7 linked regions of the Homo sapiens genome follow. The protein of the gene in region 7 purifies or fractionates together with the protein of the main gene of each other region. This does not show direct contact. Each region holds a gene or a part of one and is shown on either strand. Other genes may lie near its edges. The genes, in order: OXSR1, MEGF8, CELSR1, GAS6, POGLUT2, JAG2 and MSTN.

What was found.
Region 1: the proteins of MSTN (region 7) and OXSR1 purify together in Homo sapiens (affinity purification with mass spectrometry; one large-scale study listed by BioGRID and IntAct). This does not show direct contact.
Region 2: the proteins of MSTN (region 7) and MEGF8 purify together in Homo sapiens (affinity purification with mass spectrometry; one large-scale study listed by BioGRID and IntAct). This does not show direct contact.
Region 3: the proteins of MSTN (region 7) and CELSR1 purify together in Homo sapiens (affinity purification with mass spectrometry; one large-scale study listed by BioGRID and IntAct). This does not show direct contact.
Region 4: the proteins of MSTN (region 7) and GAS6 purify together in Homo sapiens (affinity purification with mass spectrometry; one large-scale study listed by BioGRID and IntAct). This does not show direct contact.
Region 5: the proteins of MSTN (region 7) and POGLUT2 purify together in Homo sapiens (affinity purification with mass spectrometry; one large-scale study listed by BioGRID and IntAct). This does not show direct contact.
Region 6: the proteins of MSTN (region 7) and JAG2 purify together in Homo sapiens (affinity purification with mass spectrometry; one large-scale study listed by BioGRID and IntAct). This does not show direct contact.

What each region holds. Positions count from the first base shown.
Region 1 is NC_000003.12:38,228,037-38,231,536, forward strand, and holds part of OXSR1 (serine/threonine-protein kinase OSR1), read left to right. Parts: intron 1-1,650; coding exon 1,651-1,699; intron 1,700-2,328; coding exon 2,329-2,394; intron 2,395-3,500. UniProt on the Homo sapiens protein: Effector serine/threonine-protein kinase component of the WNK-SPAK/OSR1 kinase cascade, which is involved in various processes, such as ion transport, response to hypertonic stress and blood pressure.
Region 2 is NC_000019.10:42,356,635-42,360,134, reverse strand, and holds part of MEGF8 (multiple epidermal growth factor-like domains protein 8 isoform 1 precursor), read right to left. Parts: intron 3,362-3,500; coding exon 3,154-3,361; intron 2,732-3,153; coding exon 2,551-2,731; intron 1,992-2,550; coding exon 1,828-1,991; intron 1,349-1,827; coding exon 1,181-1,348; intron 1,038-1,180; coding exon 893-1,037; intron 1-892. UniProt on the Homo sapiens protein: Acts as a negative regulator of hedgehog signaling.
Region 3 is NC_000022.11:46,360,674-46,363,647, forward strand, and holds the end of CELSR1 (cadherin EGF LAG seven-pass G-type receptor 1 isoform 1 precursor), read right to left. Parts: exon of another isoform or gene 2,575-2,974; coding exon 2,550-2,574; 3' UTR 2,515-2,549; coding exon of another isoform or gene 2,505-2,514; 3' UTR 501-2,504; downstream 1-500. UniProt on the Homo sapiens protein: Receptor that may have an important role in cell/cell signaling during nervous system formation.
Region 4 is NC_000013.11:113,833,077-113,836,576, forward strand, and holds part of GAS6 (growth arrest-specific protein 6 precursor), read right to left. Parts: intron 2,560-3,500; coding exon 2,437-2,559; intron 1,689-2,436; exon of another isoform or gene 1,608-1,688; intron 1,597-1,607; coding exon 1,475-1,596; intron 504-1,474; exon of another isoform or gene 416-503; intron 1-415. UniProt on the Homo sapiens protein: Ligand for tyrosine-protein kinase receptors AXL, TYRO3 and MER whose signaling is implicated in cell growth and survival, cell adhesion and cell migration.
Region 5 is NC_000013.11:102,786,379-102,788,976, forward strand, and holds part of POGLUT2 (protein O-glucosyltransferase 2 isoform 1 precursor), read right to left. Parts: intron 1,546-2,598; coding exon 1,456-1,545; intron 1-1,455. UniProt on the Homo sapiens protein: Protein glucosyltransferase that catalyzes the transfer of glucose from UDP-glucose to a serine residue within the consensus sequence peptide C-X-N-T-X-G-S-F-X-C. Can also catalyze the transfer of xylose from UDP-xylose but less efficiently.
Region 6 is NC_000014.9:105,151,777-105,155,276, forward strand, and holds part of JAG2 (protein jagged-2 isoform a precursor), read right to left. Parts: intron 516-3,500; coding exon 385-515; intron 282-384; coding exon 162-281; intron 1-161. UniProt on the Homo sapiens protein: Putative Notch ligand involved in the mediation of Notch signaling. Involved in limb development.
Region 7 is NC_000002.12:190,059,930-190,063,991, forward strand, and holds the start of MSTN (growth/differentiation factor 8 preproprotein), read right to left. Parts: upstream 2,801-4,062; 5' UTR 2,668-2,800; coding exon 2,295-2,667; intron 507-2,294; coding exon 133-506; intron 1-132. UniProt on the Homo sapiens protein: Acts specifically as a negative regulator of skeletal muscle growth.

The sequences.
Region 1 (3,500 bases), on a different chromosome or scaffold from region 7:
CCTACTGCATGCCTAGGCTATTTAGTGTAGCCTGTTGCTCTGACTACTGTCAGATACACAGTATATTGTTGGCCAAAGCATTAAGAGGCTCATGACTGTGACTTTAACCCAGAGTTCTCCAGCTAGTCAGACTATCATTCAAGAATGAGCATGAAATTATTTTGCACACAGAAATTGAGTTTTCCAGTCACGTTCTGTCACTTAAAGAACCCATAAGTTGTACTTTAGAAAGAAGGAAATGAAGTCAGAAGAAAGGAATGAATAATAAGAAGCAATGTTGAGCAATCACATTGTTGAGCATATTGAGAAGCAATTGTTGAGCATATGAAAAAATAAGAGTGATAATGTAGGATTTCAGTTTGCATAGCACTTTCACATTTATTCAGCTTTTTAATCTTTATAATAATCATCTGAGGTGCTGGTTCTTAAACTTGAATGCCTATTGGAATTACCTGGGGAGTTTTAAACATTACTAAAGCCAATTAAAGATTCTGCTTTAATTGGTTTGAGGTACAGCCTGGTCATTGGTTTTGTTTGTTCGTTTGTTTGTTTTTGAGACAGTCTTGCTTTGTCGCCCAGGCTGGAGTACAGTGGCACAATCTTGGCTCACTGCAACCTCCGCCTCATGGGTTCAAGCAATTCTCCTGCCTCAGCCTCCCAAGTAGCTGGGACTACAGGCGCACGCCACCATGCCCTGCTAATTTTTGTGGTTTTTTTAGCAGAGACTGGGTGTCACCATATTGGCCAGGCTGGTCTTGAACTCCTGATATCGTGATCCACCCACTTTGGCCTCCCAAAGTTCTGGGATTACAAGCATGAGCCATGGTGCCCTCTGGTCATTGGGATTTTTACATTCTTCCCAGATAGTTCAATGCACAGCAGTGTTTAAGAACTTAGGGGCTTGGCCAAGTAATACTGAACCTTAGAGAGGTTGTGATTTGCTCAGGATCAGGTAGGTGTGTGGCAAAATCAGGTCCAGTCTCTTAAATGTTAAATTCTTTATTCTGAATGATACTCTTTTAAAAGCTTGTAAAATTGACAGTCGTGTCTTTACTTAAAAGGAAATAAGACCATGAAGAAATGAGTTAAACACTGAGTTTTGTTAAATTTGGGGAATATACTTTTAGAATTTTCATTTTTAAAGGGAGATTGTGAAATCTGTTTTTAGGGATCTGTGGTTACCTAAATTGAAGGCTGGCAGGCTACCATGTGGCAAGAAGTGGAGGTCTTGATTTGGTCCATTTCCTCTTTGTGTGTTTAAATATATTTTTATGCCTTGCTAAAAATGTTAGATAGATATTTTCTAGCTTACTTATTGGGAAATAATATTAAATATTAAATTAATATTATTAAATAGCAAATATATTAGACTCTATTAAGAAATCATGCTTCCAGAAAAAACATTTCACTAATGATTTTTTCAAAGAATCTACAATAATTATCAGAATATTTGTTTTGAGTTTTTTATTTTATTCAATGTCCTGTATCAAGTTTATTTTACTTTTGCTTTTTAGCAGTTTAAGGAAAGTAGAGTATACTGAGTTTTTATTTTGCTGTTGAAAAAAATTTTTTCTCATTTTTGATGATGGAATCTGACATTACACTTGAATTAATTATAAAAACTTTTCTTCCCTCCCTTCCTGGTTTTAGACCAACAGCAGCAGAACTATTAAGGCACAAATTTTTCCAGAAAGCAAAGGTAGGAAATTCCAGCTTTTGATTATGTGTGTTCATAGGATGCTCCTCAATTACTCAGATTATGTTCAGTGCTTAGAAGTTGGATGATTATGTTTGGAAAAATGATGGTAGATAAAATAATTGCAGAAAGCACTATGTATACAGTCTTTGATAATTAAGATAATTGCTTCAGAATTTAGTAAATCCGTTTTTAAATATTAGGTTAAACTGATCATAGGAACAATGATTATTAAATTTTGCCATTATAAATATAATTTGTGAAAAATACCGAACTCTGGTTTTAAGGTTTACTACTGAATTTGTAAACATCTCATTTCCCAAATATATCAGATAGTAGGATGTTACTGTAGTTGGAAATGTAGGACCATGATCTCAAAGAACATACAGTACAGCAAACTCTTCATAGACAGTGGTTCATACAGTGTACTACATCTTAATTTTCTGCCTCAATTTATGAAACTGTGGTAGTAACATACTAAAGGAGCTTCAGAGTGAAAGAATGAAAGTTTTTCTCACACTTCATTACAGAACAGTTACTATATCACATTTTGATTATGGTGAACTTTTTTGTGGGTTTTTTTTGGTACCTTAAAAACTTGTAAGAACAAAATACTTACTTTTCCTCTCCAGAATAAAGAATTTCTTCAAGAAAAAACATTGCAGAGAGCACCAACCATTTCTGAAAGAGCAAAAAAGGTAAATCAGAATTTAACTCAGTTTTCCTGAAGAATTTACTTTATTTTTGCATTTTGAAAACATGTTAAGTAATACATTGTTAATAGTATATGAGAATTACTGGTTTTCTGTCGATCCTTTCTAAAGCATTCTTTGATACATTCATTCAGCAAATATCTTTGGTCTACCATATGCCTTGGTATTACTCTGCTATCTTTTAGGATGAAAAGGGATGCTAGACAGTAATTGGTAAATTAATTCTAAACTCTGTTTGATAACTGTTTCCAGCTACCAGAGTGAGTTGTGATTTTACATGACATTTATAGCTTTGGGTATAAGTCACAGTACCCTCTTTGGAACTCCAAATTTTCTACTGCCTTTACAGAAAGACTGAAAGAACTTTATTACGCATATGTAATTTCTAAGAAGTTTGGTCATGATGTGAGCATACAGAATGCTTTAATATCTCAGTTTGGGCAGAATATATTAATCTTCCTGTCCATGATACTTTTATGAACCTCTGTGAGAGCAGGGAGAAGAAAATCCTCCCTTTTCCTCACTCTTACTTCTCTGCTCAAGCAGACTTATCCAATGTGAAGGAAAGGAGGCAGTTTGGGCTTCTGCTGATGATAGACTTGAAGAAGGTAAAGGTCTTACACCTTGTATAATATAGTGGTAGGCCTGTCCAAGAAGTTAGAAGCATTATGTCTAGCAGTGGCTTATTCTCTTCCGTAGATCTCACTGCTTGGGAATTTTGATACATTCCAAGAATTTAACACAATGAAGAACCAGAAATGTATATTAAATACTTGGAAATGATATTCTTAATAAGCACTGGTAAAACAGTTAACTTGTCTCTATTTTAGAGATATATCTTTTTCAGTGGCTATAATGCATCGTTACATATCAGAATCACTTGGGGACTTAAAAAAAAAAAGAAAGAAACATGGACAATGTCATCCCAAACCAATTAAAGTCATGACTCTAGTGGATGAGACCTGGACAATTATTCTCATGGATAGCTACTAGGTTAAAAACTCACTTGGCTCATTCCTTCACTTTATGTCAAGTCTACTCAATTGGCCTTTCCTCAGAATAATATTCTCTGATTACTAAAACAGTACCCT
Region 2 (3,500 bases), on a different chromosome or scaffold from region 7:
CTGTCACCCAGGCTGCAGCCAATGTATTTTTAAGATGGTTAATTTTATGTTATGTGACTTTCACCTCAATTTTTTTAAATCCTCAAAAAATAACTGAGAGACACAGACATGAAGTAGTCTCTGTCTACTGAATCTGAAAAGACAGATTAAGAGAAAAAGGGAATTAAATCCCAGCACTTTGGGAGGCTGAGGCAGGTGGACTGCTTGGGCCCAGGAGTTCAAGACCAGCGTGGGCAACATAGCAAAACCCTGTCTCTACAAAAAAAAAAAAAAAAAAAAAATTATCCAGGCGTGGTGGCATGCCTGTAGTCCCAGCTTCTTGGGAGGCTGAGGAGGGAGGATTGCTTGCTTGAGCCTTGGAGGCAGAGGCTACAGTGAGCCAAGATAGCATCACTGCACTCCAGCCTAGGCAACACAGTGAGACCCTGTTGCTAATAAAAATAGAAAAAGAGACAAAGGGTCAGAGAGAGAAGCAAAAAGAAAAGGAGACAGTCCCAGAAACACACTCACAACAGTCACTCACAACATTGAAATAAAAAGGCAAGTGACAGGCATGCTTCTACCTATGAACAGCAAAGACTGGTAGGAAACACCCCCATGTCTAATAGTGGTTGTCTCTAGAGAGAGGGATTATGGGTGTTTTTTTTTCTTTCCTATTTTACAAATTATATATAGTGAACATTGTTACTTTTACAGAGTAAAAAATAAACTTCTCTAAGAAAAAAAAAAGGAAGGAGGGCATGTCCTGGTGTTCAGATAATCCAGAAGAGCGGGAGCTCTGCCAGTGGGTCTGCAGGGGCCCAGTGACTCCTAAGGAGTGGGAGTCCCAGGATGGGGATGGGGCTCCTCCTGGATGTCCCTCAGCCTCCTGGGAGCCACAATGGGGACTTACGGGTGAGGTCGGGCAGAAGCCAGGCATTGCAGTTGACCTGGTAGAGCAGAACGTCGCTGCTGAACTCGTCAGGGTCCGAGCGCCCCCCAAGAACCACCATGGTGTCCCCTAACAGGGCTGAGGCGTGGAAAAGCCGGGGGCGGGGCTGTTGGGGAGACGGGGGGTGGGGGGACAGGACAGCCTGTCAGAGCTGTCCTCTGCTCCCTCTTAGCCCTCCAGCCACCCCTGTACTTCCCTACCTATCCCCCCCTACCAGCCCACCCAATCCTAACCCTCTTCAAATCTCACCTCCTTCAGGTGAGGTGAGATTTCCTCCAGGAAACCTCCTGTACCAGCAAGAGCAGCCCACAGAGCCATCTTCTTCCTGACTTCCCGGAACCCCCATGACCCAGGCTGCTCCCCAGGAACTTGGCCCAGACCCCGAGATGAGCCACGCACATTCCTCATACGATCTCGCTAGTGACAGTGGGGGCGTCCTGGGGTTGAGGCTCCTCGAGTCTCTTGCTTCTAGCCCCCTGCCTCCAAGACGGGCTTGGAAACGTGTGGACTGAAACCACCAGCCTCTCTAACCAGTGCAGACAGGGCTCCCTGCCCTCCCACACACATTCTCCTTGGCCTTGAAGGCAGAAAGAGCGGGGAGCCTCAGTCCTGGTTTATACGAGTGGAAAAACCCAGGACGGGGAAGGGGCCTGCCAGGGCCGCACCAAGACTCAGGGGAGAGCTGGGCAGAACTCATGCCTCTGACCTCCTGGCCTCGGGTTCTCTCCTCCAAATCAGGGATGGAAGCGGGGGAGATGTGGGGGTGTCGCTTAGTTAGGGAACATAGAAAGGAGGGGAAGCAGGAATCTGGGATGGAGCCAGTCCCTGGGGCACTGGGAAAGAGGACCCCTCCCTCCTGCCCCATACATCCTTGGGTCTGAGCCTCTTTTCCTGACCTTTGCCCCCTGAGAAGGGGCCAGCAGACTCCAGGTGCGGTCAGGACAGTGCAGGGAGTAGAGCTCGGGGGATGGGGCCGCCAGCTCCACATGGAATCGGAACCCCCCAAACACGTAGAGGGAGTCGGTGGCCTCGTGGTAGACAGCAGAGTGACCATAGAGACCTGGTGAGGGGCAGGGTGACAGGCTGGGGGAGGGGCTGACAACAGCACTGACCCCGCCGACCTCCCGGTCCCCTGTTCGGTGACCACTCCCTTCCCCGGCCCTGAGACTGGAGGCCTGGGAGCCCCTCTCCACCCGTCCCTCTCAGTTGGGTTCAAATGGACAATCATTAGAGACTCTGGGAAAGAGAAGGGAGTCCTCAACTGGCAGTAAGTTCTGCCAGGCTCTCGGGAGGGAGACAGGGCGTCCAGAATGTCTAGGGGACAGTGATCAAAGAAAGGAGGTGTGATCGAGGAAGAACCCTTGAGAAGCAGGGAGCTCAGACCCTGGGGGCAGGGGACGGTGGCCACATGTGGCCGGGAGTGGGCAGTTAGTTGTGGAGTCTGGGAAGGACAGTCAGAAAATCTGAACATTCAAGAGGGTGCCCTGAGAATCTGCATGGGGATGGGAAAGAGAGGGAGACAGGTGGCCACAGAGCACAGCAGTGGATGGAGAGCCCACAGGAAGCCCAGATGCCCGGGAGGTCCACGGGGGCTGTCCCCTCCCGGTCCCCAGCCCCACCTGTGGGGGGTGTCCCACTCTGGGCTCCTGACACCCAGGTGCCGGTTGCCAGCTGGTACTCCAGCAGCTGCTGGTTGAAGCCATTTTCCGGGGAGTAACCGCCCACCAGGAGCAGAGACAGGCCTCGGCGGGCAGTAAGGGTGTGACCAGCAACGGCTGGCAGCTCCACGGTCTGGGGGGCCTGAGGGATGGAGGGGCAAGGTCACCGATGGGGCTAGAGGTCAGGGGTCACCTTGTGGGTAGAAGCGAGCCTCAGCCCCCCACAGTCCTCCCTGAAGTACTAAGGAGGGAATGACCCCCCCAGGGCCAGTCGGACCAGCCTGGGTCCTGGCAGAGGCACAGTGGGCCCCTTGGCATTTCCACCTGCTCAAGCCTGGTGTGGCTTTGGGAAGCCCTTGCTCCCCTGGCCTCTCTCTGCTGCTGAGTGAAGCTGTGTCCCAGCCCAGGACTGGCTCAGGACAACAGTGTGACCCAGGATGGCCGAGGAAATTCAAGTTTGGGGCTTCTGTTTCCTCTGGGGATGGAGCTGGCAGGAGCTACCACAGCTGTCTCTGTCAGGGCCCAGTGTGAGGGCTGGGGAGTGGGCTGGGGAGAGATGCTCACCTTCTCCTGCCGCCATTGCAGGGTGGTGAGGTTGAGGACCCAGAAATCACGGGTGACGCCTCCAGCGGTAAGTCCCCCCAGCAGATACATGGCACCACGGCCAGCGGGCACATATGCGGCTGCATGGAAGGAGCGGGGCGATGGGCCTGGGCCCCCGTCCTCGGCTCCCGCCAGCATCTGTGTCCACCGCCGCTCACTCACTGAGTACCTGGGGCCAGGGTGCAAAAAAGCAGCCTCATTACAGTCATCCCAGCATCCTTCAAGGTGACCCTGCCTGACAGATGTCCCCGCATCCCCTGGGGTGACCTTCCTATGACAGTCCTCTTGCCATTCCCTGGAGTAGCACC
Region 3 (2,974 bases), on a different chromosome or scaffold from region 7:
GGAAATTTTAAAACTTAATTACAGTATTTGAAATAAATTCACTGGGTGAGTTCAGTAGCAGAATTAAGACGACAGAGGAAAAAAAATCAGTGAACTTGAAGACGGAGCACCAGAAATAGCCAAATCTGAAGGACAGACAGAAAAAAGAATGAAGAAAGGTGAACAGAGCCTCAGGGACCAGTGGGAAAACATCAAGAGGTCTAACGTCTGAGTCACTGGAGTCACAGAAGGAGAGGAGAAAGATCAGTGCAAGAAAAGAAAACTGAAGAAATAATGGCAAAAAAAAAAAGTCCTCAAATTTGGTGAAAGACAAAAACTGCCCATCTAGGCTGTGGCAGGCCTACTAGGGAATGGACAAAAAGTTCCGGCACGTTCCACTGGCTGAGGGAGCATGGGACACGGACAGCTCAGCTGCACGTCCGTAAACCGTCCCTTCCACGGCCACCCTGGGCATGGGGAGGGGCGGGGGTGTTTGTGGAGAAAAACCAGCACCGCAGAAGTACAAATTCAAAAATCTTAATTTATTGTAGACTCTTCTCATTTGTAATTCCAGTGTTTTGAACATTAATAAATACACGTTCTGTTAAAAACCTCCAGTGTCTAATCTCTCCCATAAAGTCTTAAGTAATAAAAATAGGTTTACATTTTTCCCATCTCAATAAAACTGACAGTTGTTTTTTGGTAACAGTTCTGATCAAATTAAAAATTACACCTCGTGATGTTGGCTGTGGAGTACGTGGAAAAAAATAGAACAAAAAAATTACACCTCAGGGGGCAGAATCCTGTTAAAGTCATGAAAGGAGACTGTTCGAAGACTTAAAAACCTTTTCGTACTTAGGAAACGCCAGGGGCAAACGTTTAAAGGGACTAGAGTTTTTTATCTTCGAAAGACCACTCACCTGGTAAGGCACATGTATAATTCATTCAGGTGTGAGGACTCTGGGATCTCATTTCATCCTCCTGTCCTGGACCATTTTCAGATACGCTTTTCCTCTCCCATAGGCATCTGCTAACAGTGCTCACATTTTCATCAGGGTCAAGTTTAAAACAGTGTGGACATCTTTGCATTTTACTTGATTTTCATCCTATTTTATGGTTTCTCCTATTTGGAAGCAGCTGTGCTGATCACTTATTTGGGCACCTGATTTGAAGAACAAAGGAAACGCTAAAATCAAACATGTCTGACAGTTCCGGGACCCGTTCCACAGCCCCTCGGGCCACGCTGTGCCAGCTGCCTGCAGTGGGCCCGACCTTGGTGTGAATTTCCAAAAACAGTTTGGTAACCGTTGAAGAGTGTGGCTGTGGCTTTGTCCCTCTGCACAATTGGCCATTTGAAGCAAAATGAAGTAATTGGTCAGACTCCAGAGGGGAGAACCCTGCCTGGAGATCCTCGCAGTCTCAGAGAGTTAGAGAATTGGCAGGAGGTATGTAACGGCCTGGAAGGCCCCACACCTCTGTCCAAATCAGGAACCTGCAACGCTTTAAGGTCCCAGGTCCCACGGGGAGCAGGAGCAAAGGACAAAGCCATCCCCACCTGCAGCTCCCGGGCCACCTGGGAGGCGGTGAGGGGAGGGGGTGGTGGTCACAGAATGACCAGGTGAAAAATGACAGCCGTGTGGCAACCGTGCCCCACAGTGACCTCAGCAGGGCTCCTCACACCTGCCTAGTGCTGCACTGCCCTGTCTTGAATTCACACAGCCGGGGCAGATGGCAGCAGAGGACAAACGCACACACAGCGAACACTGGGGACCCAGGGGGCCGGCGGGGAGGGCCCACACCATCCTCACTTCCTGGCCGAAGGCAGCTGTAGGGCTTCTAGCCGCTTGGTTTTAGCCCCACTGCTGACGTATTTCCCACCTTTGATCTGCTGGGGCACCAGTTTCGTCAACACATGCCAGATTCAAGTACAACTGTGCAATCTTGACAGAGAAGACAGCAAGAGATCATTGCATGGATCTCTCGGGATAACAAAGTCAGCACGAATGCAATATATATACAGGTTGCACCTCCTCAGAGTCCCATACAAATATATAAAAGTATCTCCACCTTTCCCACATAGCGAAGTGATTTTAAGACAAGGGGTGCCTTTGCAAAGGACTGCCCGGGCTGCCAGCCACGGGTCCGCACTGCCATGAGATGCCCGCCTGGGCGGGGCTGGACCGCGGTCTTTGGTCTGTGCCCGGCGTTCCTGAACTCTGGCCAGCCTCTGGGCCCAGTCTGGGGTCCCCTCTCAGTTCTGGCTTTGACTGCAGTCTTAGGACTCAGCGGTGCTGGCCCAGTGGTCCACGCCTCCCTCATGCCTGTGGCCTTTGGCACTTGTCACCAGGTCTGACAGGCCCTGAGCTCCTGGGAGAACCAAGACCTTTGTGTCTGGATGATCAGTCGGGGGGCTGCCACCATGGGGACCGCCACACTCTGGGCCCACTCCACTTCAAGGGCAGTGGCCCCTTGGGCTCCAAGGTCTGAGGGTGATGCCGCAGCCTGTGTGGGGTGACGGGCTTGCCTCACGGTTTCCTGATGGTTCAAATTGAAGTTTCATTACTGATGGTTCAAATTGAAGTTTCATTACTGCCTCTGCGCGTGGGAAGAAGCCAGCAAGCAGGTGAAGGGTCAGTGAGGGTAGCGGCTTGGTGGGGCCCAAGGTTGTCACACGGGGGGGCAGGATCACCCCATCAGGGTAGAGGGGGCGTCTGGGGGCTCCAGGGAGGGCAAGCTCATGTTGGATGAGGCTGCCCTTGGGAGGCAGGAGAGGGGACCAGGACCAGCCTGTGGGCCTCTGTGTTGCTGGTCTTTCAGAAGAGCGCAAGGAATCCACGTTAGAAACCGGCCATCTCTACAGTGACTTTTGGAAGGGGCATTCTGAAGACCTGGCTTCTCCCTTGTGAGTTTGGAGGGAGGGAGGGGCGACAGGGAGAGGTCTGGGGCCAGGACCCCAGCTCCACCCCGCCCCCTTCACCCCTGGCATTCCGGGACC
Region 4 (3,500 bases), on a different chromosome or scaffold from region 7:
ATACACTATTATGAAATAGATATGGATGCCTTGAAGATGGCTGTCCTGGAAAGTTCCCTGTTCTGGGCTGTGGTTTCTCCACGCTGCCCGAAGGGGGACAGAACCAAAGCCGGTGTGAGCTGACACCCCTGGAAGATGGAGGGGCTGGGGCTGAGCCAGGCCTGCCCTGCCCACCGTGGGCAGCCAGGGTGAGCTGGACATCTCGCAGGGGTCCGACACCCTCTGCATGAGTACATGAGGCAGCGAGGCAAAGAACCTCAAGGCGAGGGCTGGCTGGAAGCCCTGAACGTCGCAGCCCAGACCCAAGAGCCCCACGGCTGCATCCCAGGTCTGCGACTCCGAGAAGCTGTCCTGGTGACTCTTTCCACCTGTGGTTTTGCTTTTTAAATAAATGCTCACTCTCATCAACCCCCAGGCACAGGCCCAGGCTGAAGAGGAAAGACAAGAGCCGCCCTGCCCAGAAACGTCCACATGTGGGTACTGCATTCCTACCGGTGTGACAGGTCAGTGTGACAGGTCGGTGTGACAGGCACCGGTGTGACAGGTCGGTGTGACAGGCACCAGTGTGACAGGCACCAGTGTGACAGGTCGGTGTGACAGACACCGGTGACAAGTCAGTGTGACAGGCAGTGGTGTGACAGGCACCGGTGTGACAGGTCGGTGTGACAGGTACTGTTGTGACAGGTCGGTGTGAGACACTGGTGTGACAAGTCAGTGTGACAGGCAGTGGTGTGACAGGCACCGGTGTGACAGGTCAGTGTGACAGGTACTGTTGTGACAGGTCGGTGTGAGACACTGGTGTGACAAGTCAGTGTGACAGGCAGTGGTGTGACAGGTCGGTGTGACAGGCACCAGTGTGACAGGCCCCGGTGTGACAGGTAGGTCATGCTGTGACAGGCCCCGGTGTGACAGGTCGGTGTGACAGACACCAGTGTGACAGGCCCCGGTGTGACAGGTAGGTCATGCTGTGATAGGCCCCGGTGTGACAGGTCGGTGTGACAGGCACCAGTGTGACAGGTAGGTCATGCTGTGATAGGCCCCGGTGTGACAGGTCGGTGTGACAGGCACCAGTGTGACAGGCCCCGGTGTGACAGGTAGGTCATGCTGTGACAGGCACCGGTGTGACAGGCCCCGGTGTGACAGGTCGGTGTGACAGGCACCGGTGTGACAGGTCGGTCACGTTGGCTCCCTGGCACGCGGCAGAGTGGGGACCGTGCCCCCGTGAGTGTCACACTGGGGTCCACACCAGGCTGATCCACTGTGAGCTGGGAGTTGCCATAGAGACTCTATAAATACAACCAAACATCTTCCAGGGAACAGAAGCGTTTCTCATCCCAAACCTCCACATGGCCCTGGAGATCCCCAACACCTTAGCAAAGGCCAGGTCTTCACGGAAGTGTTTCTCCCGAAAGCCCCCACCGGCGAGGGCCCCCGGAACCACCGTGAAGGGCCCGCGGGGCCAGGGGCCGCCTACCTCACAGGTGTCCATGTCCTGGGACAGCTTGAGGCCCCCACGCCCGTCACAGTGGCAGGTGTAGCTCCCTGGGGAGTTCACGCAGACCTGCTCACAGCGGCCCTGCAGACACTCGTCCACATCTGCCAGCCAGAGGGAAGCGGCGGTGAGCCGGGGAGGCCTCTACGCTGTCCCGCCGTGGGATCACACCGCGATTGCTCAAACCACACGCAAGGTGCGCTCAAGGAATTACATGCAGATTCTAACGGGGGCGGCTTGGGGGTCGCGTCCCCCCCCACTGGAAAGCTAGGTTGCACCCTCGGCCTGCTCCTGCCCGGGCTCTTTCTTGAGGGAATAAAAATGTCGCAGGTGTCCCAGGAGGGTGCTCCCAACGAGCCAGACCCACCCCCGCTGCCGGGCCGGTGTGGAAGGCAGGTCTGGGAAGCACAGGGTCTGGGCTGTGCAGTGAGGTGTCCCCCGGAGCACAGAGGGGCCGACAGCTGTGGTGGGAAATGGAGGTCAGTGCAGGCAGCCTGGGCTTCCCCACCCTCTCTGTCTGCCTACTCAGCCCCACTGTTCCCATCACTGGGGGCACGGCCCCTCTTAGAGGCTCTACGGCCAACAGGGCCCTCCCCATGGCGGCTGGAAAGAGAGAACAGTAGAGGGAGGCTTGCTGCTCCCCGTCCCTTTGGGGAGAGGCCCCGTCTATGCAGGTGGAGAAGGGTACACACGTGTGTACATGCGGTGTATATGCATGTGTGCGGTTCGTTCATGTGCACAAGGGGCATGGGTGCCTGTGTGTGCTCACGTGTGTGCGGGCATGGTGGTAGCACAGGCCATTACCAGGCTGATAGAAACAGGGAGAAAGAGACTTTCTTTCACCAGAAGCACCCGGTTGTTAGCAACCGGCTCGGGCAGTGACTGGCACCCGTGTCTAGACTTGGGCGTCAGAGAAAGCGAGGGTGACCGCGTGGCGTGGGTACCTCGGCAAGCCTTCTCCTGGGAGCTGTACGCAAAGCCCTCGTCACAGAGGCAGGAGTAGGAGCCGGGCAGGTTCTTGCAGCGCGCCTCCCCGCAGGCCTCCGAGTCTGCGCACTCGTCTATGTCTGCAAGCAAAAAAAAACCGGCCAACCGCAGCACAGCGGCATCTCAGACGGGGCTGGGGCAGGCGGCTGCAGGGACTGGCCAGGGCACCACCCAGAGGTCGCATCCAGACTCTGTGGGGCCAGCGCGCCCTGGCCCCATTTCCCTGCCCTCCTCCCCTGACCGGGCAGCTCCCGGGGTGTTGGTGCACGCTTCTGATCAAGGCCCGGCTGGGAAGGCTGACTTCAGCCCAGCAGGTGGAGAGCTGGGAAGGGCCCTGCTTGGTGGAGGGGTGGGGGGCGGCGGTGCACGCTGTGCTGTTCCATTTAAATGACGGTGCTACAGGACACGGGGCCGTAAAAAGTAACCCCCCGGGGGCATTTGAAACTAAAACCCCAACCCCAAAGAGAAGCATTTACTGGTTTCAATCAATTTTCACTACCGGGTTAAACCACAATCCTAAGACTTGAGCATCTAATGTGGGACAGATGCTGTTTACGGCCAAGCACCCTGGGGTAGGAGGGGCAACCCTGAAATGAAGAGCCCTTTAGTCACCAGAGGAGAGCAAAGGCAGGGGCACGGAGAAAGGTGGGGGAGGAGAAGGGGGAGTAGGAGTGGGAGGAGGAAGGGGGGAGGGGAAGGAGGAAGAGGAGGAGGAGGAGGGGGAGAAGGGGGAGGGGGAGAAGGGGGAGGGGGAGAAGGGGAGGGGGAGAAGAGGAGGGGGAGGGGAGGAGGGGAGGAGGAGGGGGTAGGGAGAGGATGGAGAGGAGGGGGAGGAGGGGGAGGAGGAGGAGGGGGAGGAGGAGGGGGAGGGGGAGGAGAATGGGGAAGGGAAGGAGGAGGACGGAGGGGGAGGAGGACGGAGGGGGAGGACGACGGAGGGGGAGGAGGAGGAGAAGCAGGGAGGAAGAGGAGAAGGTGAGGGAGGGGTGGGGGAGGAGGTGAGGGAGGGGGTGGGGAGGGG
Region 5 (2,598 bases), on a different chromosome or scaffold from region 7:
CTTTATATCCACCCAATGAGAGAGGCTAGAATATATGAAGACTATGATTCATTTAACTCATGTGTGTCAAACTGTGATCTGCATAGTCCGTCATATATACCAGTTCTGAACATCAACAGTAGAGCATCTGAGAGGAGGCCATCCTTTGAACACTGGCTGCCTATTCCTAACAGACACCTCTTTATGCTATCCTAAATTTCCATGACTTTTTTTTTTAACCGTCTTCTGCCTCACAGTAAAAATAATTTTGCACACAATCTTCCCTAGACTGAGAATGTGAAGACAGAGACTATTCTGCTTTCCTTATCATGGCTTGCACAAGCCTCCATCATCATCTTCATTTATCATGTGCTTACTCTGAGTGAAGCACTGTGCTAAGTACCTATGCTAAATGAATGAACACTGCCCCATGGATCCTTAGAAATTCACATGGTAAATCCCCCCAGTTTATTCATTTTACACGGTTTGTCCTCTGCTTCCCTCTATCAAGGGAAGGTTACAAAATCGGGAGGAGCCAGTACAGGCCAGAAATACACCAACTTTGATCTGTAGCAGAGCCTCAGATATGGGGCTCAGTATCTGCAACTGTGAGATAAAACTCTTACTCTAGATCTAGTACTGTTATTAGCCAAGAACTTGTTTACTACCTGATTTTGTTTTTTTTTTTTTGTTTGTTTATTTTTTTGAGACAGAATCTCACTCTTGTCACCCAGGCTGGAGTGCAGGGGTACGATCTCGGCTCACTGTAACTTCCACCTCCCGGGTTCAAGTGATTCTCCTGCCTCAGCCTCCCGAATAGCTGGGATTATAGGTGTGCACCACCACACCCGGCTAATTTTTGTATTTTTAGTAGAGACGGGGTTTCACCATGTTGGCCAGGCTGGTATCAAACTCCTCACCTCAGGTGATCTGTCTGCCTCAGCCTCCCAAAGTGCTGGGATTACAGGTGTGAGCCACCGCACCCGGCCTACTACCACATTTTTAAAAGAGTCCTTTAAATCGTCGGATATGCTTGATTACAATCTCTAAATGCTTAGGTCCATGGAAATAATTTCCAAGGGAAGTCATGGCTCATACAGAGTCAAGACAAGAGGCCCAAACACACCTGGCACTGTTTAGACAAAGAAATGGTAAGGCAGCAGCAATGTAACACAAAGAGAACATACAAATCCATGCACTGTAACTTTGTAGGATCAGAGGCCAATTTCTTAGTCAGACATCACATAGTTCTAATATTAATAGTTTTCGCTTAATATTGTAACATTTTCCATTAGCTAATCTTTGGTTTTCAACTATTTTTTTATGATTACTTAATATTTGTCTCTGATTTTCATCCACAGAAGTATATATATCTCCCTATAGTAACATATGTTTAGAAATTGTTAAGTAAAATATTATTTGTTCTTAACATGTCTACTTATAAGTTACGTGATGATTTTCTTGGAAAATACTGACCTGGAAAAGTTTGAAATAATAACAGAATATGTCATCGCCCATGAGATTATTTCTTGCAAATTCTTGTCCTGCTTTTGCTATCTTTTTGGCCTACAGGAAGAACAACGACAAAATCCTGTAATAGAATCCATTTTTCCCATGCAGGCATCTGCAAACTGCTCTTCAGAGTATGTATACATTGGGGCAACTGTGGGAAATAATATCTTTGGGGGTAGTCTCATGGTAAAACAGAACATTTAACAGAGTATGTTTGTTTAAATCAGAGGGAGGTTTCTAAGACTTAAAAGTTTGAAAAGTCATATTGGACCTTCTAGAACTAAGCCTCTCCTGGAGAGACAAGGTTGTACACCAAGCAAACTGATGACTTTGTAAACGCAAGATGAAGCTTAGCCAGCTGCCTTCACAAATTTCAGGAGACAATTAGCTTAAAGTTTATTGCATTCCATCCCTCTTTATTTCTGTATTTATGGCTGCATCTACTTCTGAATCAATCCCTCATTTTAACCTGGAGCCTGTTAGTGACTTCTGCCAGACTGGCCATCTTACAATTTTCACATTGCTAGCGGAGGCAATGCTTGTGGCTCAGAGCAACGCTACTTGAAAGAGAAAGTGTAATCAAGGCCACAGTTTAGCTTTTTGTTGTTGTTGTTGTTGTTTGTTGTTGTTGTTTGAGACGGAGTTTTGCTCTTGTTGCCCAGGCTGGAGTGCAATGGTGTGGTCTCGGCTCACTGCAACCTCCGCCTCCCAGGTTCAAGTGATTCTCCTGCCTCAGCCTCCCCAGTAGCTGGGATTACAGGCACCCATCACCACGCCAGCTTATTTTTGTATTTTTAGTAGAGATGGGGTTTGACCATGTTAGCCAGGCTGGTCTTGAACTCCTGACCTCAGGTGATCTGCCTGCCTCAGCCTTCCAAAGTGCTGGGATTACAGGCACGAGCCACCGCACCCAGCCTAGCTTTTTGTTTCACATGCAGAGTGGAGAGTTAATGTAAGATGCAGTGCCCGCTGTGTTCAGCCTAGGGGAACTGCCGTGCCATCTATGGGCAGGCAGCTTCCCATTTACAGGCCAAAGTCTATTACGTGAACATCCTGGATGCTCTCCAGGTACAATACATTTCAAAAGGACCCATGATATTGGGAAAC
Region 6 (3,500 bases), on a different chromosome or scaffold from region 7:
GGCCCCCAGCTTTCCACAAGCACTCCTCCCCAAGCCCACAGGTTCCCAAGCTGGGGGTCAGGGGCCCACCACACAGGACGCCAGAGGGATGGGGCCTGACCGGCTCCCCAGGGAACCAGTCCCTGCCTGGCCAGAATTTGGGTGGCCAGCCCCCCACGTACCCTTCTCACAGTTCCTGCCCGAGTAGCCGTCAGGGCAGGTGCAGCGGTACTGGTCAGGCTCGGCGTTGATGCACGTGCCTCCGTTGGTGCAGGGGTGGTGGCTGCCACAGTAGTTCAGGTCTGGGGGCAGGGGTGGGATGCTCAGGGGAAAAGCCGGCCCCCCGCTCCCCCACAACCCACACTTCGATGGCAGAGCATTAGGCCTGCCGCCCCCTACCACTACCTTTGTCACAGAGCAGGCCGCCCCAGTTGGTCTCACAGTTGCACTGCCAGGGCTCCACACAACTGCCATGCACGCAGCCGGGGTAGGGGACACACTCATCGCAGAACCTCCCTTGCCAGCCGTAGCTGCACCTGGGGGAAGGAGGAGGGGCGCAAGACCCAGTGAGCTGTGGTGCCTGAAAGGGTGGCAGGGGAGCCAGGCACAGTCACCCACGCCACACCCAGGGCCGGCGGGCGGCCTCAGGCCTTTGAACTGGAGCAGCCCCAGCCAGGCAGGGGTTGCAGCCCTGCCGGCCAGCCCCACTGTCACGGGCATTCCCGGCCGCTGGCTGCCGACGGTCAGCCCCAGCTGTCCCGTCACTCCTCCCTGAGCTATTTTGGGATTCACCCGTGAGCTGGGCCCCGAGAGCAGGCACCAGGAAAGGAAGGCCCTGCCGGGACCCCGGGGATGAGAATGCCGGCTCGGACTCACAAGGTGCTGCCAGGGCCGGGAGGCACCAGGGGCTGGGTAGGCCAGCGGGCAGCAGGGGAGCACTCCTGGCTCTGCCTCGGCCATGTGGCCCTGGGCACAGCACGTGCCCTCGCCCCCACCTCAAAGGCAGTCATTTCGCTCGCTCCCAGTAAAGTCCCACAAGGTACCCATCTCACAGATGGGGCTACTGAGGCCCACAGGCTGGCCTGGGCCAGCCCTGCCCAGGGTAGTTCCTGATTCTGCAGGAGCTCCAGCTGCACCCCCAGCTGCACCCCCCAGGACACAACCACCAGGACTCGCCCTGCCCCAGGCTATCGGCCAACGTCCTGTCTTGGGAGTCCCCCAGGAGAGGGCAGGTGGCCAGGGTAGAACATGGCCTGACTTGAGGGTGCCTCCGTCAGGGGAGAGAGCCTGCAACGACCCCAAGGCTCAGCAGGCTGCCATCCAGGCCCTGCCGGGACTCCCGGGGGGCCCTTCCTAGAACTCTCCGGTCCTGCAGGACGGGAATGTCATCCAGGCCACGTCACTTCCACACCGGCACCCGCCACACTTTATTTTTGTAAAAGGAAAGAACCACGGCCCTTCCTGAGCCGCCCTCAAGCCACACAGCCAGCACCGAAGGCCTATCAGCCCAGTTCAGCTGCCACAAATGGGGAAACTGAGGCCGGGAAGAACGTGTCTCCAGTATCCAGCCCAGCATGCACAGTGGTCCGCGTGGGTGGCCTCACATCCCGCCTAGAATCCCTCCTCCACAGACACAGAGACCCAGGCTCAGGGCGGGGCTGTGACACACCTTGGGTCATCGGCCAGAGAGCGGCCACAGCCGGGCTCAGAGCCCAGACCTCGTGGGTCCCAAGGGCGTGCTCTCGACCCTGGGCAGGGCAGCCCACACCAGGCCCCCACCTCCTGGTTTCCCCAGCCAGCAGCCCCAGGGCCCTGGAGAGGCGGCGGCAGGAAGGCATGGCCATCTCCGCAGCATCCGGTGGGGGGGCGTCCTGCACTGGAACCTGAGCCGAGGCTGTCAGCAACAGCTGGGCCTCCCCGACAGGGCCAGCAAGAGGGGCAGGCGGAGCTCACCTACTGCCCCCACCCACCAGGCCCCCCAGACTCCGGCTCATCTTCCTGCGGGTAAAGGGCAGGGATGGCCAACTTCTCTGCTGCCTTCCTCCAGCCTTGGTGTGACATTCAAGCTGCCAGCCAGCAGCCATCCAGGGAGGGTGGCACTGCCATCCAGGTTGTGTGATGCACACTGGGCCAGGCGAGGGTGAGTGGGGCCGACTCCCGTAGATCTACATCTACATCTGCCCAGACCAGGTCCACCTTGTTGCACTTTCTGAGCTGACTTGGGACTCGCTCAACCTGCCGGGAATCCCTGTGTGTGCAAGTGACCGGGTGGGCGGCCCCAGCCCTGCTTGCCTCCCCGCTCTGGGACTGGCCGGGAAAGCTCCTCACTGTACCCTCCAGGCCACTCAACCGTGGGGCCTGTGGAAGGGTCACCCACCTCCCCACCTTGGCTCCCAACTCAGCTGGTTCCCAAACTCCCCGACTCCTCTCCAAAACGCCACGCTGTGTGACCCTGGGGAAATCAGTAGGCTCTCTGTGCCCCAGTGTCCTCGTCCCATGGAGGCAAACCCACTCCACAGAGGGAGGTCCTGGGACCCCTGCAATCCAAGGCTGGCTGGAGGGCGGTGCTCACCTCCACCTGCTGTCTCTCCACCCGCTCGCGCCCCTCTCTCGGGCTCCCCAGCTTGCTCACGCACAGTGAGCGCCACGGCTCGAAGCCCGTGCCCACCCCAGACCCTGGGCCCCAGCCCCTCTGGTTGCCCTGCTGACTTCTCTGCTCCACTCTAGGGCAAAGCTGCCAGCCCCCCTGGCTGGATCCCCCACACTCTGGTCTGGGTCCAGAGGCCTCCACCATCTGGACTTGGCTGTAAGACCCCGGACACTCCCTTGTGGAGGCCCTTGCTGACTCCTCATCCATCCGCCCTGACCTGTGGCAGCCGGGACTTGCTCCTTGGCCTCCCTCCTCTCTGCCTTCCCCACTTTCCCGTCACCGCCTGAATGCCACCCCCCACAGGCCCCGCGTGGCGCAGGCCAGGCCTCTCCCACGAGCTTTCTGGGTGTCTCCAGGGACAGGGCAGGCATCGCCTCTCCACATCCAGCTAACCCCGGCCCCGCCTGCTCCTCTGTGGCATTCCTCCTGCCACCATGGCTCTGCTACTCAGCAGCTTGGGGTTCTCCCTGACTCCACACCCTTCCTGCTTGATCAAATCCATCCACAAACCCCTGGGCTCCACCCCAGGATGTCTGCAGGACCCGTGCGCCTCTCCCCCTTCCACTGACCCCCTCCCCATCCCGCTGGCCCCTCCCCCACCACCCCCACATGCCCCACAGCGGCCTCCCCCTCACAGCCTCCCGTCTGGTGCTTCCCCACTCAACAGCTACCACAGCCCTTCCACCCACCTTGCCCAGCTACAAACCTGCCAGCAGCCCCTTCCTCTGTCCCTGGTCCTGCAGGCCTCAGCTCCCACCACTGGTCTGCTCTGCCGCCCCTCGCCTGCTGGTGTCACTTGCCGGCCGCTCGCCGCCCACCCCCTCCCCATGGGCAGGGTTACCGTGTCCTCTGCCCATGCCCCATCTCTGGG
Region 7 (4,062 bases):
CTACCGTTGGGGTAAGATACCTTTGTCTAGCTTATGAGCTTAGGGAATTTGTAGCTATTTTCCACTATTGTTTGTTCATATTATGAATAAAAACATAAGGTTATTATAATGTTATTTTCAGTTATCACTTACCAGCCCATCTTCTCCTGGTCCTGGGAAGGTTACAGCAAGATCATGACCATTCTCATCTAAAGCTTTTATTTCAATGCCTAAGTTGGATTCAGGTTGTTTGAGCCAATTTTGCAACACTGTCTTCACATCAATGCTCTGCCAAATACCAGTGCCTGGGTTCATGTCAAGTTTCAGAGATCGGATTCCAGTATACCTTGTACCGTCTTTCATAGGTTTGATGAGTCTCAGGATTTGCACAAACACTGTTGTAGGAGTCTCGACGGGTCTCAAATATATCCATAGTTGGGCCTTTACTACTTTATTGTATTGTATTTTAGAGCTAAATTTAAAGAAGCAACATTTGGGTTTTCCATCCACTTGCATTAGAAAATCAGCTATAAATGAATAAGAAAAGAAAAGTTGCTGAAATTATTTCCCATTAACAAAACCCCTCCATATTAATAGTTGAGCATTTTTTTAAATTAAGATAATGTATGCCTATGCAGTCTTTTAAAATGAAATACCGTGTGGAACTTTATAACTCAAAAAAATGTCAAAGAAAATAATTACCCTAGCTTTTCAGAATTTTTCAGACGTATGTATTTTCAGCTGTTCATCAGGAATCTATTCCCCTTCCAGAGAACTATGGACAAAGGAAGGTTCTATGAAGTAATGAACGCTGAATGAAATTTTAAAATGATGATGATTAGAGAGAACAAGAGACACTGTGGAGGAACAACCACTTAGAATTCTTTGGGAATCTGAGTAGTTACACTTACTGAGCAGCTGTACCAATCAGTCTGGAAGAAGGAACCCTTCCCCCAGGCCTGAATTACCTGGGGACAAGACACACTGAGCAACTTACTGAGCCTCAGGAATTAGTAGAAAACACAGTACATCTGTTACATTTTGGCTTTGGAATAACCTTTTAAAGGAGCAAAACTAAGCAGATAATTAACACAAAAATTTTGATGTTATATTCAGGCTATCTGAAAAGTTCGAAAGTATTGTCTTTAGGGCCAGGCTGTCATGTAAGCACAAGCACTAACAATTTCTTTTATTTTGGTTTTCCAAAATTGTCTATAAAAGGTAAATCTGCTCCAGACCTATTTGATAGCAGAGTCTTAAATGGAAATTCTTTGCTGCATTGTAACCTGATTACTTAATAAGGGAAATAATATTTTAAAACTGTTTGGAGTCTTGTTTAAAGTATATAAAGCATTGTATTAAAGCAAGATAACAGGTAACACAAAATTTTTCTTGCCATGCCTTCTCTGTCAAGGTGCCTGTTTCTCTTTCCTGGAGAAAGTATTCTTTTGAGCTGACTGCAAAAGGAATTGTATGAAATATGTTATCTGTCAGAAGCAGTGTAGATACTACAGGTAAAAGCCCTCCCTCTCAGGAAGAATAAAATATTTTAGAAGGTTATTAAGCACTGTGCCTGCTTGGAAGTACACAAACTGGGTACTCTCAATAATAGTACTATGGTCAAGGTACAAGGAGGACTTTGTGAGCCATAACCTACCCAATTAAAATGTTTATTTCTTAGGCATTTTCTAATATTTAGTTCATGATGATTATTATGCTATGTTTACTTCATTATTGTTCTTACTAACACATTAAGATATTTAATTTTTGCATATTCTTCAGTGTAATAGCTCTCAAAATTAAATTTTTAACTGTGAAGAACAAAAAAATTACTGAGAGAGTTTCAAATAACAGAAATCACTTGAGGTTTTCAGCAGTGCTCAAGTAAGCTTAAACATCCAGCAAGTTTCTTTTTTTTTTTCTGTTATTAGTGAAAAAAACTTATTTTACACAACTAAATACAATTCTAAAATCTAATGTAAGTTTTAAACACTGCTTGTAGTATCTCCCAGTCCTTGCCTTGGTGGTATTATTGTGAAAGCATAAGCATGCTATCTATATTTGCCTTATTAAATTAATGCTATGCAAGTACTTTATTTTTTAGTTTTTTGTCTCTATAAGAAAACAAATAATGCAGCAGATTTTTGTCTCATTAATATATTCTCATGCAATCTTGAAAAAGAGAAACTCTTTTCCTTTCTACTTACATACAGGCCAACAGCTTGTTTAAAAGAGCCTGAAAATAGATCTGTTTCTCATAAACACTAGAACAACAGTCAGCAGAACTGTTGATATACACTAATAGGACTACTTACACTCTGTAGGCATGGTAATGATTGTTTCCGTTGTAGCGTGATAATCGTCATCTTCCAAAGAGCCATCGCTGCTGTCATCCCTCTGGACATCATACTGATCAATCAGTTCCCGGAGTGGAGGAGCTTTGGGTAAAAGTTGTCTTATAACATCTTTGCTGATGTTAGGAGCTGTTTCCAGACGAAGTTTACTGAGGATTTGTATCTTAATGGCTTCTATTCTTGAAGATTTAGTGTTTTGTCTCCAAGTACATGCATTACACAGCCCCTCTTTTTCCACATTTTCTTTTTGCTCACTGTTCTCATTTAGATCCACTGGACCAGCAACAATCAGCATAAACAGGTAAATATAAACACAGAGTTGCAGTTTTTGCATGATTTTAAAATCAATATAATCTTTTTTCTTGTTCTTGTTTCTTCCTTTTACTTTTCTTTTGCTTTTGAGTAATGCCAAGCAAAATTTTAATGCATGTACAGTCTGAGAGACAACTTGCCACACCAGTGAATCTTTTATACTGTATTCCAAGTGGCTTTTTATATTCCAACTTAGATGAGACAAGTGTCGTCAGGATCTATGATTGGCTCTTGCTCCACAATGAATCTCGCTGTCAGAGGTTAAAACCCTGTCTGTCCCAAGTCACCAAGCAGTATTTTGTTACAGTCAAGGGTGAGCTGATTCATTTGACTACTTCATAAAAGAAATAAATCTACAAATAATAAAAGATATTTGTGACATTTGAAAAACAAAAGTCTATGTTGGCAATAATATAAACTGTACTTAAATCTTACTAATCCTCACACAACTCTTATTGTAATTTAAATAAGTCAATTTTAATTTATACTACATATTTAAAATATGAAATATTACTTCCTCAAAAACTAAAATGATTTTATATTGTTTAGGCAAGTATTTGAAGTAGAAAATATTTTTATTTGTTGTATTAAATTATTTTTAGTGCCAAGTAATTAGGAAAATAAAAATTAGGAAGACCTGAATTAAAAGTTAAGATTATGATACTAGTTGAGAATTTTCATCTATAATTTGAGAAACTTGTTTTCTGACTAAATTCTTAGTAAATATTGGAAGTCATTGTTATTATAACATATTGTGCATGGAATTATTTTTACATAGTTTCATGTCTTTTATTAATATGAAAATTATACTGAACTTTTGACTGAGTGCTATTATTTCCTATTCTAAAGATGCAGATTAACATAACTCAGAAGATGTGTTTTTCATTGTTTATTACCAAGAGGGTAATGCCAGCTAGTAGAAAAATCTCTGAACATAGACTAAGATAATGAATTTTATAACTGGCATGGCAGAGATTATTACAGTTTGCCTCAGATTTCCAGCAGTAAATATCCAGAGAGTAAAAAGTGCAGTATCTATTCTCTATAAATTATATCAGAATATTATGAGCACATAAAAGAGAAAGAGCATCATGATAAAGGGGTGACCTTTTGTTGTTTCCCAATACTGCGATATGTTTGCACCCCTTTGCCAATTTCTCATTTTGACCAGAGGGCAGACACCTGGCAGGGATTTGGGGTAAAGTCTGGGAGCAGAGAATAGAGCTTTTTGTTCTCTAAATTTAAGTGGCCTCTGTAGGGATCAAACGTTCAACCTTAGCTTTGGGAGCCACAAGATCTAGTCAAATGAACTATTAAAGAGCTAAGCAAACATAGCCAGCAAGAAACAGAAGATATTTCTAGGCCAAAGGAGATTTCTTTTTCCTACTCCTTTTTGGGAAGCTAAGGATTCCTAAGA